3 linked regions of the Homo sapiens genome follow. The protein of the gene in region 3 interacts with the protein of the main gene of each other region in a biochemical or structural test. Each region holds a gene or a part of one and is shown on either strand. Other genes may lie near its edges.

Region 1 (3,500 bases), on a different chromosome or scaffold from region 3:
AGGGCCTCAATCTGTTCATCTGATTTTCTAGAACACACAAACTTCTGCACTCCAGATCATCAACTTGACCACACGACACTGAAAAATATGATACCGCCTGTCTACAGAAGTACCTGAAGACTCCTGGGAGCTGAACAGTACATTTAAAAAAGATTATTTCCCCTTGAATTACCAAAGCAATTGTTAGAAAAATAAAGAAGAAAGTGACAACTGGATGCAATCCCCCGCCCCGCCCCCGGAGCTGCTGTGCTCTGGTTGCTGAGCCTGTGGTATCAGGGAAAGAGGAGCACAGGCTCGTCTCCTCAGGGTCACGGGGGAAAGACAGCCAGGCTGAGTTCACCAACTCCCCCAATTCCCAGCATACGTTCTCTGGGAGCAGTGCCACAACCAGCTCTTCTCAGTCAGTGGTGCAAGCCGTGGGAGGTGGAGTCTCGGGCAGAGCCTTACCATGCCGGAGCCGCCACAGTAGTGGCAATGCTGCACCTTGGTGCCGGGCTCGTTCCCCTTGCCGTTGCAGCGCTCACACGTGTCCATGATGTTCACGGTGAACTCCTTGTTGACCCCCTTTGCAGCTTGATTGAATGTCAACTCCATGAAGTACTAAAGAAACCAAGGGACAGCCTGTCAACTTTTGTTTGCAACGACCAAAACTGACGCTCGGCTCTAAAGGGAAAGGAGGGTACTGGCCCACATTTTCAGTCACTCTTTCACCACTGTACTTACTTGCACTCTGCCAAGTAAGCATAGGTAGGACTCACTGAACGAATTCTGCCCTACTCTTTGGGATTTTTAAGAGATAATGTATGACTTAAATGAAAACGTACTTTCAACAGACTGAAAATGTTCACAGATAAATACTCGTACATGGCACTTAAAAACAGCCTGAATGATCCACAATCATAATTTAGATCATAAATATATCCCCTCTCTCTTCCACTCTGACAGTGTCTTATAAGGACATAAATGAGAGAGGATCAGCAGTGCCTTCCCACCGGACAGAACTCTCCTGGAATACTGTAGCAGATGAGAGACAACACTCACACCCTCATGGGCTCTGAAAGCCTTAGGTGCTACCTCATTATGCAACTGTTAAGAATACCATCAGAATGGACATACTCATTACTACCTATGCGATTTTTCAAATACTGAAATTATTTTCTACTAAAATGGCTGCCTCCAGATCACTCCATTTAAGCTGCCTTGCCTTTCTGAGAAACAGAAACTGATAAAAAAATTTGTTTGACCCATACTTAGTCTAAAATTTGAATAATTCTTCCAAGTGAGGAACTTACTTCCTGAGGCTGATCAAACACGGTCTGGAAATCTCCAAATGAAGAGGATGAGAACTCGCCAAAGATCTTCCTGAACAGCTCCTCGGGGTCCACAGTGGGGCCTCCCTTCCAGTAGCTATGCTGGGAGCCGCTGGCCCCAGGATCGAAGCCTGCAGAGCCGTAGGCATCGTACTGCTTCCTCTTCACCTCATCACTCAAAACCTACAGTGAAAGGCAGAGCCACTGGGCATCCCAGGTCTACCAAGGCCCAGGAATACAGACAAGAGTTCACAGCAAATAAGGCAGCCATAACATTTATTAAGTGGCCCTGTGTGCAAACACATCCTATGAGGTTGGGGTGGGCCTGTGACTAGCACCTAGAAGAGGGATGAGATGACCAAACTGAATGCTAAGTGTAGGGCGTGAAGTGCTTCCAAAAGTCTCACGAACTCTCCCGCCGTCGCGCATGCTGGGAAAATGTTTGTGTTGATCCTCGCTTGACCTCACAGGCACCCTGGATTCTTCACAGATTCACACTTCACCTCTCTCCTCAGGGGACATTACCTCGTAGAGAATTTATGCTTCCTACCCTTACCTTCATCGAAAGGTTTTCTGCAAGCCAGAACAACCGGAGTAACAGAAGTAACAGCAACGACAATAGCAGTGGTGCAATCCTAGCTCACTGCAGCCTCAACCTCCCAGGTTGAAGCAATCCTCCTGCCTCAGCCTCCACAGTAGCTGGGTCTACAGGTGCACACCACCAGTCCTGGCAAATTGTTTTAAGTTTTTGTAGAGACAGGGTCTTGCTATGTTGCCCAGGCTGCTTTCAAACTCCTGGCCTCAAGCGATCCTCCCACTTCGACCTCCCAAAATACTGGGATTACAGGCATGAGCCACTGGGCCTGGCCCACAAAACTGTTAATAAGGACTAACTACCTCAAAAAGGGGGATTAGGGAGGGACAAGGAAAAATGTAGTATTCACTTTGTATCTTTTTTTTTTTTTTTGAGACGGGAGTCTTGCTCTGTCGCCAGGCTGGAGTGCAGTGGCGCGATCTCGGCTCACTGCAACCTCTGCCTCTCGGGTTCAAGTGATTCTCCTGCCTCAGCCTCCCGAGTAGTTGGGACTAAAGACATGCACCACCACGCCCAGCTAATTTTTTTGTATTTTTAGTAGAGACAGGGTTTCACCACGTTTGCCAGGATGGTCTCGATCTCTTGACCTCGTGATCCGTCTGCCTCAGCCTCCCAAAGTGCTGGGATTACAAGCGTGAGCCACCGTGCCTGGCCCTCACTTTGTATCTTTTTTTTATGTGTTTGTCTTACTTTTTTTTTCTTTAATTAAAAAGACACTGCCCTAGGCTGAGTATGGTGGCTCACACCTGTAATCCCAGGACTTTGGGAGGCCAAGGCAGGTGGACTGCTTGAGTTCATGAGTTCAAGACCAGCCTGGGCAACATGGTGAAACCCCATCACAAGAAAAATACAAAAAAATTAACCAAGAATGGTGGTGCACGCCTATAGTTCCAGCTACTTGGGAGGCTGAGGTGGGAGGATTGCTTGAGCACGGAGGTTGAGGTTGAGGCTGCAGTGAACCGTGATTGCACCATTGCACTCCAGCCTGGGCAACAAAGTGAGACACTATCTCAAAAAAATAGGCACTATCCTTAAGGCCAAACAGAAAAGAGTACGCTTCCTCCAAAGGAAAAGACACTTCCACCTAGAATGGAGGGGGACTAAGAAAGCAGGTGGAGGACAGCTTGGTGCCTAGGGTAACTTTTAGGGCACCCAGTTAAGATGCAAAGGAGGAAGGCTGGCAGAGGAGGAGTCAGGTGGGAGTTCATGACTTCCTGGTGGGTTTTATCTCCTGGTTCCAGCCCTTCCCAAGGAATTGCTGCTCTTAGGTTCTGAGGCTCGGTCCGTTTAATAACATCCCCCTTGAAGACAGAAGTCAGCAACACGGTGGATTAGGACTCTCCAAAACTCATGCCCCTGGCAGAAACATCAGATCAACTAACCATGTGGAAAAACACATTCACAAGAATAACACCCCCCCGCCCCATTAAAAATTGAATCTTCTGGGTGCAGTGGGGAACCTGTAGTCCCAGCTACTCAGGAAGTTGAGGTTGAGGCAGGAAAACTGCTTGAGCCCAAGAGTTTGAGACTGCAGTGAGCTGTGATCTCGCCACTACACTCCAGCCTAGGTAACAGAGTGAGACCTCAACTCTTTT
Region 2 (2,557 bases), on a different chromosome or scaffold from region 3:
AGGATGCCGCTGCACCATCTATGGGAGATGACGCTGGCCTGGATGCAGTGGAGACTGTGGGGTTCAAAGTGGTGAGACTTGGGATATGTTTTGGAGTCGAGTGGCCAAAACCCTGTGACTGCTCAGATGTCATAGGGGTGAGGCCAGGCACAGTGGCTCACGCCTGTAATCCCAGCACTTTGGGAGGCCGAGGCAGGCGCATCACCTAAGGTCAGCAGTTCGAGACCAGCCTGGCCAACATGGTGAAACCCCGTCTCTACTAAAAATACAAAAATTAGCCAGGCATGGTGGTGGATGCTTGTAATCCCAGTTACTCAGGAGGCTGAGGCAGGAGAATCGCTTGAACCTGGGAGGCGGAGGTTGCAGTGAGCCGAGATCACGTCACTGCACTCCAGCCTGGGTGACAGAGGGAGACTCCGTCTCAAAAAAAAAAAAAAAAAAAAAAAAAGTCATAGGAGTGAGAGAGAAGGAAGGGCCAAGGAAGCCCCCAGATTTCAGGCTTAAGACATTAGATGGATGGAGGTGCCTTTAACTAAGACAGGAAAGGTGAGGGAAGGTTGGGGGTGAGGATCAAGAACTCAGTTTGAATGGACATGTTGTTGAGATGAGCCCATTGCCAGACTGGGCCCTGGTAGCAGCCCTGAGCTGATGCCCCTTCCCTACCTGGGTAAGGGATCCGGCCGTAGGTGACGATCTCCATCAGCAGGATACCAAAGGACCAGACGTCTGACTTGATGGTGAAGGAGCCAAAGTTGATGGCTTCAGGAGCTGTCCACTTGATGGGGAACTTGGCCCCTGCAGGGTTGAACAGAGCAGAGTCGGGGAAGGCTGGGGAGTAGTGAGGGTTGGCTCTGCTAAGGTGGGGGAACAGGCAAGGGCAAGAGCTGCCAACATCTGCCCCTGCAGACCTGCAATTTCCCTGATACGTGGCCTCCCTGTGGAAGCAAGGGACATCCATCCTGAGGACAGATGGCTAAACAAGGAGGAGTGGGCTTAGGGGCCTGGGGTATGGTGTGGAAGTTCACTCTAGAATCCTCCTCGTTGATTCAGCTGATACCCCAGTTAACTGCAACTCCGAAGAGTGGAATCCCAGAGGTCACAGGTCTTTGGGGACAGAAGGACTTCAGGGGGCCTTGAGTCCAGGTTGCAGCTGATGCCTCAGTCCTCTCATCCTGGGCGATGGGAAAAGGGAGGATTCTGGCTCTCAGCCCATGAGGTTCCCACCAGTCACTATGTGTCTCTCCCTTTACCCGCCCTTCCTCCCACCTAGTCTGACATGGGTTTAGTTAGCCTTTTCATTTTTTTTTTCTTTTAGAGACAGAGTGCCCAGGCTGGAGCGCAGTGGCACAATCATAGTTCACTGAAGCCTCGAACTCCTGACCTCAAGCTATCCTCCTGCCTCAGCCTCTCAAGCCCCTGGGGTTACAGGTGTGCCCCATTATGCCAAGCTAATTAAAAAAATTTTTTTGGCCAGGTATGGTGGCTTGTGCCTGTAATCCCAGCACTTTGGGAGACCAAGGAGGAGGATCACCTGAGGTCAGGAATTCGAGACCAGCCTGGCCAACTCCATCTCTACTAAAAATACAAAATTAGCTGGGCATGGTGGCAGGTGCCTGTAGTTCCAGCTACAGGCTGAGACAGGAGAATCACTTGAACCCAGGGGATGGAGGTTGCAGTGAACCGAGATCACACCACTGCACTCCAGCCTGGATGATAGAGTCAGACTCCGTCTCAAAAATAAAATAAAATAAAATAAAATAAAATATAAAAAAATAGAAAAATTTGTAGAGACAGTGTTTTATTATGTTACCCAGCCTGTTCTCAAAACTCCTGGGCTCAAGTGATCCTCCCATCTTGGCCTCCTAAAGCACTGGGATTATAGGTGTGAGCCACCGCACCTGGCATAGTTATCCTTTTTTAAAAAGTGTTTAGTTTAATTATATCATGGTTGGTGAACATGGTCTATAGAATATATGTTCTTTGGAATTTGTTGAGACCTGCTTTATGACTGAGTACATGGTCAAGTTTTGAAAATGTTCTATGTGTGTGTTTGTGTGTGTGAGAGTGTGTGTGTGTGTATATGTTTTCTCCCTTCCTCCTTTGGATCTACAGACTTTTCTTGATTTCCTGCTTATCTTCTTCTGGTTTAGAAATTATACATTCTACTTTTATTCCTTTAGTCATTACATTTATTTATTTATTTATTTATTTATGTTTTGAGACAGGGTCTCGCTCTGTTTGCCCAGGCTGGAGTGCAGTGGTGTCATCTCAGCTCACTGCAAGTTCCGCCTCCCGGCTTTCACGCCATTCTCCTGCCTCAGTCTCCCAAGTAGCTGGGACTACAGGTGCCCGCCACCACGCCTGGCTAATTTTTTGTATTTTTAGTAGAGATGGGGTTTCACCGTGTTAGCCAGGATGGTCTCGATCTCCTGACCTCGTGATCCTCCCACCTCAGCCTCCCAAAGTGCTGGAATTACAGGCATGAGCCAACGTGCCCGGCCCTATTTATTTACTTTTTTGAGACAAAGTCTTGCTCTGTTACACAGGCTGGAGTGCA
Region 3 (3,500 bases):
AAGTAATGGAAAACTAAAATTACTACAAAAAACTACAGAATAAACATTTTATAGAGAAATATTCAGGCTTTGATCTGTTAATACATATCACTTCCTTCCCTAAGCCTGAGTTTTAAGAAGGTATTAACCTAATTCACCCTGATGTGAACTGGTAAATCTCACTGTCAACTGTTTTAGCAGCAGGATGGAAGGAGCTGTGCTGCTGAGGACAGGAACTGGGAGCCTTTGACTACCAGAAGTGAATAAGTGACATATTCAAGTTTAAGGGAAATTTTTAAATAGAATAAATGACATTCAAGTTTAAGGGAAATTTTTAAATAGAATACTTTTTTACTTATATGGTAATGTAATCCCAGCATTTTGGGAGGCCGAGGCCGGCAGATCACCTGAGGTCAGGAGTTTGAAACCAGCCTGGCCAACATGCTGAAACCCCGTCTCTACTAAAAATACAAAACTTAGCCAGGTATGGTGGCGGGCGCCTGTAGTCCCAGATACTCAGGAGGCTGAGGCAGGAGAATTGCTTGAACCTGGGAGGCGGAGGTTGCAGTGAGCCGAGATCACACCACTGCACTGCAGCCTGAGCAACAAGAGCAAGACTCCATCTCAAAAGAAAAAAAAAAGCAGGAAAAACCTAAAAAGTAGAAAGAAGGGATGAGGGCAAGCCCTACAAAAAGACCACTGTAATCATTTCCTTATTCTTCCTATTCATTGGAGAAAGGAGGGTGGCTAAATATTTTAATCTTAATTGCTTAACAGTGTGTACAGTTGAACCATATTGGTCTTTTTCTATCTTAGGTATATTCTTTCTTGATAATCAATACTTTAAGAAGTACAGAAAGAAACTATCTCAAATTATACTACTTGCATTTCTGTTTTTTTAATTTCTATTTTAAGACTTTCATTGTGAATTTTGAAAGTATATAAAACATGCTTTTTCTATTTTAGAAAGTTTCTGTATCAACTTACAGATATCAGGATCTTTGCTTTTCTTTGTTTTATTACTAAGAGTTATTTCAAATCTATTGATGTCAGGAGGAAGATCACTAAAGGAGCAAGGAGAAAAAGAATTAACAAAATGTTTTGGCATCAAACTACCTTATTTCTTTAGTTCTAGTATCAAATAAACCCCCTATTTCTGCTTTAAAAAAAAAAACAGTGTGCTAGACCTAAAACCAGATTCACAACATATTTTATTATTTGGTATACAGAAGACACGCAGATTACACACTTTTCCTACCATCTTTAACCTCCTAAACTAATAATTCATTCAAATAAGTACTGGAAACCCTAGTAAATGTTTTGTATTTGTGGGTTAGTAAATGTTTTTTGACTTGCTAATTCATGTTAATAACTAAGTGGAAAAACCAAGGGCATAGCACTTCACAAATAAAGGTGAACAAACAACAGAAAAAAAAAAAAAAAATATATATATATATATATGCTATTAGAACACCTGGATATGGTACCTTGTTCTGATGGTTTAGATACAGAGACCAAAAAAACAGAAAGAAATGCAATATGGTAAAAGAAAATGATTAATGTAATGATAAAATAAGACTTACTCAAAGACAAACTCTTCTGACCATACTGGGTTTTGCCCTTCCCTTGCATGAGTTTTTGCTACTTGGACACTATTCAGGTAGATGTTACAATATGGATTAGTAAAATGTTTTACTGGGAGTTTATGGGCTTCTTCAATATGTAAAACAAGGCTGCTGACCTAAAAAAAAAAAAATATATATATATATATTACCCCAGATTTCTAGAATTGCACTACATTTCAAAAGCAATTACTCTAAGATACAAAGCCAAAAATAATGACTTATTTTCCCCTTTTTTTTCAGAAAATGTGAGCTTTGGTTATATATTTGTATATGACATACTTAAAACATTCAGACATTTAAAATAATTCTTCCCACCTAAAAGATAAAAACAATGCAATTTTATTTTACAAGTTATTTCTCCCAGTATATTCCTGGAGAAATAATGAAATACACCTTTTCTACCATAAAACAATGATAAAGAGAAAATGAAGTTAAGAAGAAAATTCTTTATTAATATAAGTAAACAACTGTCACTACTCAAATTAAAATCCCGTATGTTATATAATACTTATCTGGAAGATTCTATTTCTATAAAAGAGTTCCACAGCTAAAAATTTTTAAAACACTGACTTTACCTTCTTATTTTACAGGAAAGGATACAAACCTAAAGAAACTAAGTTATTTGTTAGTTTGGATGCCAAAACTTAGACCATCCACCTTCTAGTATCAGGTTCTCTTTCTCTCTTGCCATATACTACTTGTGTGGCCTTGCACAAATCCGTCCCTCTAAGCCTCATCTTTCTAATATGTAAGTATAAAGTCTACACTACAGGTTGTAATAAGTATTACAAACTAGTTATCCCTCAGTATCTGTGGGGGACTGATTCCAAGACCCTCCACCTCTCTGTCCTGGCAGCTAACGAAGCCCAAGATGCTCAAGTCCCGTATAGAAAATGACATAGTATCTGCATAAAATCTATGCATGCCCCCCTGTATGCCGTAAATCATCTCTAGATTACTTGTAATACCTAATACAATGTGAATGCTATGTACATAGTTGTTATACTGTATCTTTTTATTGTATTTTTTCGACCCATGGTTGGTAGAGTCCACTGATGCAGAACCCATGAATAGAAAGGGCTGACAGTATATGTAAATCACTAAATCACACTGCCCACTGATACATAAAAAGTGCTTGAGAGATGTTAGCTATGATTATATTAAACCTGCAAATGTCATTTTAATGGCTCAAGTTTCACACAAAATACAACTTGCTCTTATTAGCAAAAATCCAATCTGATTTTTGATAGCTTACAAAATGTTACAATGTTATGAAGACATGGCGATTGTGTGTATACTTAAATTTCCCTGGGGAAGAGCCAGACTTTGGGTTACAGGGACTATTTAGTCACCTAAATATCAACCATTATCCACTCCCAGTAGAACAGTATGTTAATCACTCAGCTTATCAGATATTCGCACAAAGAGAACAGGAGACACTTTGGTTAGTAAATAAATATTGTACTAAACTTTCTTTAAACCTTGAGAATGTCAAAATTTGCCTAACTTCTTCCAATTATACAGGGATTACTAAAAAGAAAAAAGCCAAGAAATGGAGGTTATAAAGTTACCCTTGTAAAGGCAAAAAAAAGAGAAAGCCTAGCTTAACTCTCCACAAATCTCAAAGTATAGGGCATGTTACAGTTTCAAATAAGATTAAATATTTCCTAAGAGTTAAGCAGTAGGTTTTAAAAGCTGTTCTTCAAAATGAAAATCCCAAAAAAGTTTATTGGGATTAGTGCTATAAATCTGATGATCTTTTCAATGTTCTACTTTTTTGAAAGAGGCCAAAATAAGTTTTTGAAGGAAAATTAAGTGCCCAACAGAACCGTTTCTGCTGTGTTGGTTTAGTGTTGTTATTTAAAGTGGAAGAATAATCTTTCTTATGTTTTTAAC

The links. The genes of interacting proteins can lie anywhere in the genome.
Region 1: the proteins of RASA1 (region 3) and DNAJA3 form a complex in vitro, tested with the Homo sapiens proteins (one study listed by BioGRID).
Region 2: the proteins of RASA1 (region 3) and HCK form a complex in vitro, tested with the Homo sapiens proteins (one study listed by BioGRID).

Annotation. Positions count from the first base shown.
Region 1 is NC_000016.10:4,439,368-4,442,867, reverse strand, and holds part of DNAJA3 (dnaJ homolog subfamily A member 3, mitochondrial), read right to left. Parts: intron 1,494-3,500; coding exon 1,293-1,493; intron 601-1,292; coding exon 448-600; intron 1-447. UniProt on the Homo sapiens protein: Modulates apoptotic signal transduction or effector structures within the mitochondrial matrix. Affect cytochrome C release from the mitochondria and caspase 3 activation, but not caspase 8 activation.
Region 2 is NC_000020.11:32,097,242-32,099,798, reverse strand, and holds part of HCK (tyrosine-protein kinase HCK), read right to left. Parts: intron 796-2,557; coding exon 664-795; intron 1-663. UniProt on the Homo sapiens protein: Non-receptor tyrosine-protein kinase found in hematopoietic cells that transmits signals from cell surface receptors and plays an important role in the regulation of innate immune responses, including neutrophil, monocyte, macrophage and mast cell functions, phagocytosis, cell survival and proliferation, cell adhesion and migration.
Region 3 is NC_000005.10:87,372,383-87,375,882, reverse strand, and holds part of RASA1 (ras GTPase-activating protein 1), read right to left. Parts: intron 1,721-3,500; coding exon 1,563-1,720; intron 1,044-1,562; coding exon 967-1,043; intron 1-966. UniProt on the Homo sapiens protein: Inhibitory regulator of the Ras-cyclic AMP pathway. Stimulates the GTPase of normal but not oncogenic Ras p21; this stimulation may be further increased in the presence of NCK1.